Homo sapiens: one gene and its partner. The protein of the gene in region 2 purifies or fractionates together with the protein of the main gene of each other region. This does not show direct contact. Each region holds a gene or a part of one and is shown on either strand. Other genes may lie near its edges. The genes, in order: COX15 and TMEM65.

Evidence for each region.
Region 1: the proteins of TMEM65 (region 2) and COX15 fractionate together in Homo sapiens (co-fractionation; one large-scale study listed by IntAct). This does not show direct contact.

What each region holds. Positions count from the first base shown.
Region 1 is NC_000010.11:99,725,531-99,729,354, forward strand, and holds part of COX15 (heme A synthase COX15), read right to left. Parts: intron 2,034-3,824; coding exon 1,911-2,033; intron 1,625-1,910; coding exon 1,438-1,624; intron 1-1,437. UniProt on the Homo sapiens protein: Catalyzes the second reaction in the biosynthesis of heme A, a prosthetic group of mitochondrial cytochrome c oxidase (CcO). Heme A is synthesized from heme B by two sequential enzymatic reactions catalyzed by heme O synthase (HOS) and heme A synthase (HAS).
Region 2 is NC_000008.11:124,320,400-124,324,223, reverse strand, and holds part of TMEM65 (transmembrane protein 65), read left to right. Parts: intron 1-848; coding exon 849-903; intron 904-2,076; coding exon 2,077-2,119; intron 2,120-3,824. UniProt on the Homo sapiens protein: Essential for maintaining proper cardiac intercalated disk (ICD) structure and function as well as cardiac conduction velocity in the heart.

The DNA of each region.
Region 1 (3,824 bases), on a different chromosome or scaffold from region 2:
TCTCATCTCCCTCCTTAATCCCTTCTTTCTTTATTTATTTTTTTTGAGCCAGAGTCTTGCTCTGTTGCCCAGGCTGGAGTGCAGTGGTGCAACCTCTCAGCTCGCTGCAACCTCCGCCTCCCCGGTTCAATCAATTCTTCTGCCTCAGCCTCCGAAATAGCTGGGACTACAGGCCCACGCCAGCATGCCCAGCTAATTTTGGTATTTTAGGTAGAGACAGGGTTTTACCATGTTGGCCAGGCTGGTCTGGAACTCCTGATCCCCCACCTTGGCTTCCGAAAGTGTTGGGATTACAGGTGTGAGCCACTGCACCCGGCCTTAATCCCTTCTAACTGACTCATTTTCTTACCACTTCTGAGTTAAATTAACCAATTAGCTTCCTCCTGATTAAATTTTGATGTTTCTTTGATGCCCTGATAATCTCCTTTAGGATCTCTAAACCTTGACCCAAATACTCCTATGTGTCTTCTCTTTTAATTTGTTGCTCAGTTTCACCCAACTTTTTTTTTTTCATCATTCTAGCAGTACTAACCTGTTAACTGTGGGAGTCTTTCCTTAAGAGGCGCTCAACTTACGTGATTTTAATTGCCATTTATATCTGAATATCTCTCAGCTACATGGGTATTCTACAATCCTTCATCCCACAAAGTGTTTCTCTCTTTTGGAATTTTCCTGTATGCTTCTGTGGCATTCTAGCACAGGGATCCCTCTTTCCTATAGCAGACAAGTTAGAAAAAGAGGAGAGACAAGAACCTAGGGAGACACCCATGATGGGAAACAAACTACATCTTGCAGCACATGAAAATATACTACTGAGTGCTTTACTGATTCCAGGCACTAAGCTAAGTACTTTAAATATGGATTATCTCATTTAATATTTACACGACTGTACATGGTGGCACTGTTATTATCCCCATTTACAGGTAAAGAAATCATAGCTTTCAGAGGTTAGGTAATTTACCCTAAGTGTCAGAGCTGGGGCTTGAAGCTAGGCCTGTGACACTAAAATGCATGCTCTTACCTATTCTATTAAAGTGCCTCAGAGATTATTTCCTTAAAAAGAATGCCAACTAGGGGCCGGGCGCAGTGGCTCACACCTGTAATCCCAGCACTTTGGGAGGCCAAGGCAGGCAGATCACGAGGTCAGGAGATCGAGACCATCCTGGCTAACATGGTGAAACCCCGTCTCTACTAAAAATACAAAAAATTAGCCAGGCATAGTGGCAGGTGCCTGCAGTCCCAGCTACCGAGAGGCTGAGGCAGGAGAATGGTATGAACCTGGGAGGCGGAGCTTGCAGTGAGCCGAGATCACGCGCCACTGCACTCCAGCCTGGGCGACACAGCGAGACTCCGTCTCAAAAAAAAAAAAAAAAAAACAATGCCAACTAGGAAGCTCCTGGGAGCATTTCTGGTTTCTCAACCTTGAATAAATCTTACCTGGAAGCAGACGAGGCCACAGAGGGCAAGAACACGTCCTTTCATGCCACGGCTGAGCCAGCCCTTTCTCCAAAAGTAGGCAGCAGGCAGGATGTACACAAGGCCTACAAGGCGACCCCACATTCGGTGTGAGTACTCCATGTACCAGATGAACTTGAATTCTGTCAGTGTCATATCATGATTCAAGCTGGGTGAAATGGAAAGTCAAAAAAGGAGGAGGAGGAAACATCCTTCTGATTTTTATTTTCTTACGGAATGCAAAACCTTTCTTTCTCAGTCCTGCAACTTGGTAGGTCTGCCCTCTTCCTCATCAACGACCTCAGGATGACTTTGGATTTGGGGGCTTAGAAGACAAGCTGACTAAACATAACTGAACCGAAGTTCATGAAATAATCTAACCATTCTGAAGGGTTTAAGTCCAAAAGATCAAATGGGCCTACTGGGATGTTTACCTAATTTTCTCTAATACTTACATTTTAAATTCTGGAAATTGCTGGTATCTTTGGAATTCTGCTTCCCATTCCTCTTGGCTTGTAGGTGGCTTCATCTCCTTTATTAAATGCCAATCTACCATCGAGAGGCCAGACTCTGTCAACCTTAGGATAGGAAAGAAATTTTGGGGTGTATGCGTGAGGCTGGATTACTCACAAAAGGTTTATAGCAACAAGTGGATCTGAACTTAACCTTGTTAAAGGTAAACACATTGTTTCCTTGTTTCCTCTTTTGAGACATTTCTCTGTTACTGCTTGGAATTTTGTCAGAAACAGCTGCCATCAGGTACAAATTTATTTACCCTTATATTCTCTCAATCCTTTTATTCAACTCTCCCCAATTCTTTTTTTTTTCCCAATTCTTCCTTTCACTAGCATTCCTCAACAGGTAAAATCAACCCCTACAGCCAAAGAAATGTGTTCTAAATGCATAACCAACATTCCTTACCCAGGGAAAAGAGACCTGTTACATGTATACAGGTTTAGATTCTTGGGTGAATTTAAAGACAATAAAATTCAAATTTGTTTCACTTGCTCATAACAACCTATATAACACATAAGGTATTTTGAAATAAGGGACGTGGAATGTGAAGAGAATTTGAGGAAGACACATTTGATTAAAACTAGAAACTTTTTTACCAAAAGGAATTAGGATTCCTAGAGTAAAAGCCTGATTTTAGGCCTGAGGCAAGAAATGCACAAGATGAGCTCGGAACATCTTGTCATACTAGAAAGTAAGGAAACTATCAAAGGTAATTAGGGCCCTGCCAAAAAGTCACTAGAGCCAATTTCAGGAGATGCCCACTGACTAAAGATGGGACAATCTGAGCAAATCACTAACACCATCATCACAACGGACCGAAACATTATCGAGTGTGTTTGAACCTATGATCTCATAATGAGCCTTAAAAATTCAAATCCTTTATTTGTTGCCTTTGGAGGATTTGGGGGACCAATTTATTATTTTGAAAATTGGTAAATAAAGGGAAAGAAGAATCAAGTATGTATCCTGCCTTTCCTATACAAACTATACCTTGGGATATCCAAACTGATGATGAGGGAAAGCTTTTTAGAGTTGAGCTAATAAAATATTATAATTTTGCTACGCTAATGAAATAATGGATCTAGGCAATGGTAATTAATGGCTGTTAACATCTATAATAGACACCAGATATTCACGAATGTTCTATTCACCTACTGAAGTATTTTGCTCCCTCATCCCTAATTTGAATCTGATCAACCAACTACTCATTCACAGGAAATAGACGGGACAAAGGAACATGTTAAATATCACACAGTTATGCAGTCAGCAAAATCTAAACTGTGCATAACCATAGGACAAATGACTAGAGTTTCCTCAGCAACTAGAAGAGGGGGAAAGGGAGGAGTGTCTAAATCTATAGTCTCTTGATAGATTTAAACAAACCTAAGAAACATGAACCAATTGTGATGTACAGAACTTCTTTGGGTTTAATTCAAACAAACTGTAAAAAAAGTTTTGAGACAAACTTGGACTCTGATTGAAAGAGAAAAGATACATAAACAATGCACAGGTACCAGTTAAGACATAAACCAGTCTTTATAGAAGGCTCCTACTAATAAAACACTCAACTGTTCTATGGCAGGGCAAGCCATCAGACATGTTCCTTCTTTAAGGCCTCGGTTTCTCCATCTATACAATGAGGGAGCTAGACTAGATGCTCTGTAAAATTCCTTTCTCCAGCTGGGCATGGTGGCTCATGCCTGTAATCCTGGCACTTTGGGAGGCCGAGGTGGGCAGATCACCTGAGGTGAGGAGTTTGGATCAGCCTGGCCAACATGGTGAAACCCTGTCTCTACTAAAAATACAAAAAATTAGCCAGATATGGTGGCACGCGCCTAGTCCCAGCTACTTGG
Region 2 (3,824 bases):
AAATATCATTGAGATTTGAAGCATTTTTTAGAAATGTTCAAGCATCAGTATTCAAGAGAACTCTTGAAAATTAAGTCTTCTAATGGCAGCATTGCTCAGGGATTAGAATTGAATTAGCACAATAGATCCTAGGATTTCTTCTTTATTCTGTTAGAATAGTTTAATTGTCTTCACTTCAGTTCCTCCTCTTTAAAATGAAAGTAAAATATGAGCCCCTCTTTTCTTCAGAGGAATGATGATATACATATAGAAAGTCTTAAACTCTGTCATTAAATTCAGTGGCGATACGATGGGGCTTTGTTTTGAGTGTAGATCTATTGTACTAAATGCCGTTGCTGCTTATAAATTGAATGTATAGTTTCACTACTTAATGGTTCAAGAGCTAAGTGTTATAAGGATAATTTTATAAACCCCAATTTCCCTAGAAACTGGTTTAGTCTCCTTTTAATCTTTTGATAGAGTAAATAACAATAGTATAGATGTATAGTTCAGAATTTAAAATCAATGTGAGTCGGTCTTGTTTTCAAAGAGCTTTAAAGCATTTTTCTCTGTGGTAGAAAAATAGAAATTCTAGATTTTTAATGATGAACTATATTTCTACATGTGTTGCTAATTTTATTTTTAGAAGCCTAATTTGAATGAATAAAATGTTATTGATGTTATTTCTGTATGAATGCATATATTTAATAATTTAATGAATTACTATATTATATGTGCATATATGATGTATGTAATTTTGCAGCACTAACATGTTGATTTAACTTGTATCTGTTTTTATTAATGCTTTGCTATTCTTTTATAGTCACTTCAGCTTTAATTTTTAAGATTAATTTTTTATCATATTTCAGGGAACCCATATTGAAATGTCTATTGGAATTATTTTGGGAATTTCAACTATGGCAGGTATTTAACAGTAGTAAATGTTATTATTTCATTGTACACTTATAAAACATTTCAGTAGATTAAGTTTAGAGGAGGGTAATTTATTTGAATGAGTTTACTCATTGAGATATCTGTTAATTTTCTTCATCCTATTCTTCTGATTCTTAGTTTTGTACATGTAGCACTTTTTCTGAAAATTTTAGGTACTTTATATTATTAGTTATTGGATAACAATACTCTGCTATATTGATTTCGTTAAGACAAGATTTTCTGGCAATTCAGTGTTACCCCTAAACATTTCTACCCTTGGTCTCTTTTATTTATTTATTTATTTATTTATTTATTTAGAGACGGGGTCTCACTCTGTCACCCAGGCTGCAGTTCAGTGGTGCAATCTCAGCTCACTGCAACCTCCACCTCCAGGTTCAAGGGATTCTCCTATCTCAGCCTCATGAGTAGCTGGGACTACTGGCGCCTGCCATCATTCCTGGCTAATTTTTGTATTTTTAGTAGAGACGGGGTTTCACCATGTTGGCCAGGATGGTCTTGAATGCCTGACCTCGTGATCTGCCCGCCTCGGCCTCCCAAAGTGCTAGGATTACAGATGTGAGCCACCACGCCCAGCCTATTATTTATTTTTTATTTATTTATTTTTGAGTTGGGTAGAATTTTTTTTTTCTTGAGTTGGGTAGAAAAATCAAAGAAGGAAATACAGGATTAAACATCTGTCTTCTCTGTCCCATTTACCACTCTATTCTTCACAGAGGTAAAATTTGGGAAGAGTTCTATGTTGTATTTATTGTAGAAAGCATTAGGTAAATGAGTTAATGAAAGAAACATATTTTTCTCCTTGACTTTCTTGAATTTCATAGCTGTACATGCAACTTTACCAATTCCTTTAAATATTATATGAAAGATACTACAAAATATTCTACAATTAATATTGAAACCAAAATGGAAATTGGCTGCCATAACAAAAAAACCTACTACTTAATGGAGGTAGAATAGCATAATTTCAAAATTGTGTTCTATTTCAAAACCTTGAGAGTAAGAGCTGTCCAATGAGTTACTTTGGATATGGTTGCTGTTGTTTGAGAAATATGAGAACTCTTCCAAGATCAGTGCTTTATTGATTACATAGTGATATAATTATTATTCTTTTATGTAACAATTATTTATTTTTCAAATTTTTAGCTGCTGCTTTGGGAAATCTTGTGTCAGATCTAGCTGGACTTGGGTAGGTTCATTCACTTATTCATTTGTATATTCTGTACTTGCTGTCTTTCTGTTCCCCACTCTTCTTTAATTGAGAAGCATAACAAAAGAATATTTCATTTTTCTTTGTTTTCTAGAATTAAAATTTCAAATTTACTTTTTCTAAACTAATAGTACTAAATCTTTGGTATCCATCAAATATAGATGCCTGGGTGATATCCCAGTTATACATTATTAGTGTCTCTGGAGAGGGAGCCCTGGCAGTTGTGTTTAGTAATTTTCATGAGTGGTTCTGATGTATGCAAAAGTTTATTCTAAATTTACCATAATGTAAGCAAAATGGAATTTGTGTTTACTGAAGTATTTATATGTATTTTATAGACATCTCCAAGGGTAAGACAGGAGTAAAAGGAAGAACCTCTCTCATTATTCCACCTCACCCTACTCCCAGAAAACCCAAAGAGAAGGGATATGGCTCGAATTTGAGGATACTGACTAGACATGTTTTCTAGAGGGGGGAACTTTCAAAGGAAATAATGGCCAAAGCATATATGGGTTTGGCTGTTTTTTGCTCTCTTTACTTTATGTGGCAGGAATAATGAAACAAACTAAGGACATCTATTTAGAAAAGGCCAGCTTTCTCTCTCTCTTTACATTCTTGTTCCAAGTAGCAGATGGCCTGAGTTGCTTCCTGAGCTTGGGGAAGCCTGGGGGAGTATAAATTAGACTAAGTGGACATTATTATGATAAATATGCTCTGTCTTGCTCTGTCTTTGATTTTGTCTCTTCTTTCCTTGACTCATTTGAGTGTTACAATTTCAGATTTGAATTTTTTCTTAGAAGTTTACTTAGCCCTATAATCTAGGCAAAGCAGCTTTTTAAGTGATCTAACCTTAACCTTTTATATTAGACTTCTGCACTGGAGTTTGGGGCCAAAGCCACAGTTAAAAACAAAGTTTCTTTGTTTTAGGACCATGGCAAGAATTTTATATTCTTCGAATTCCTGGCATAAATGTATCATGATATCATCTCTTAAACATTCTATTCCCAGTTTCCAACATTAAAGTAAATAATGAGAATATTACAGTCATTGTATAGCTTTCTGATATATTTAATAGAACCAAATGATCTAAGAGATTTTAAAGCCATTTAGCTATATATTGCATCATAAAACAATTGTTTTTGTTTAGAGATGAAGATTTTTCTGGAAGTCTTTGTATTTAAAAACTATTTCTCTTCTCTCTTTTGGGGGGTATCATTCAATAACAAATACCACATTTTAGGCATTCTCAGATGCATTTTAACGTATCTGATATCAGGATCCATCTTATTGTTGGTAGTATACATAGTTTAATTAGCAATATTTTTTCTTTCTTACAGTTCATAAAGTAAGGATGTATCCAATAAATGATGGCAACTTAGAATTGATAAAATACTTGAGATTGGCCTGACAGTTCTAAGGTGTTTTTGTTAGTTTACCAATCTGAGGAATTTTGGAAACTTTTGCTGTCTGATAAGTTACTAATTTGTATCATATGTTAAAGTGCTTTGCTTTGAGTTTGGAATAATTGCAGAAATTCTAATTATCTGTACAAATTGTTACATACCTTGAATTGTTTTTAAAAATAATAATAGAGAATACTTGCTCTGTCATTAATTTTCCTTTGTGTTAAATATGTTAATAAAATATTTTTAAACAATATATGCAATAAAAATTAAAAGTTGTA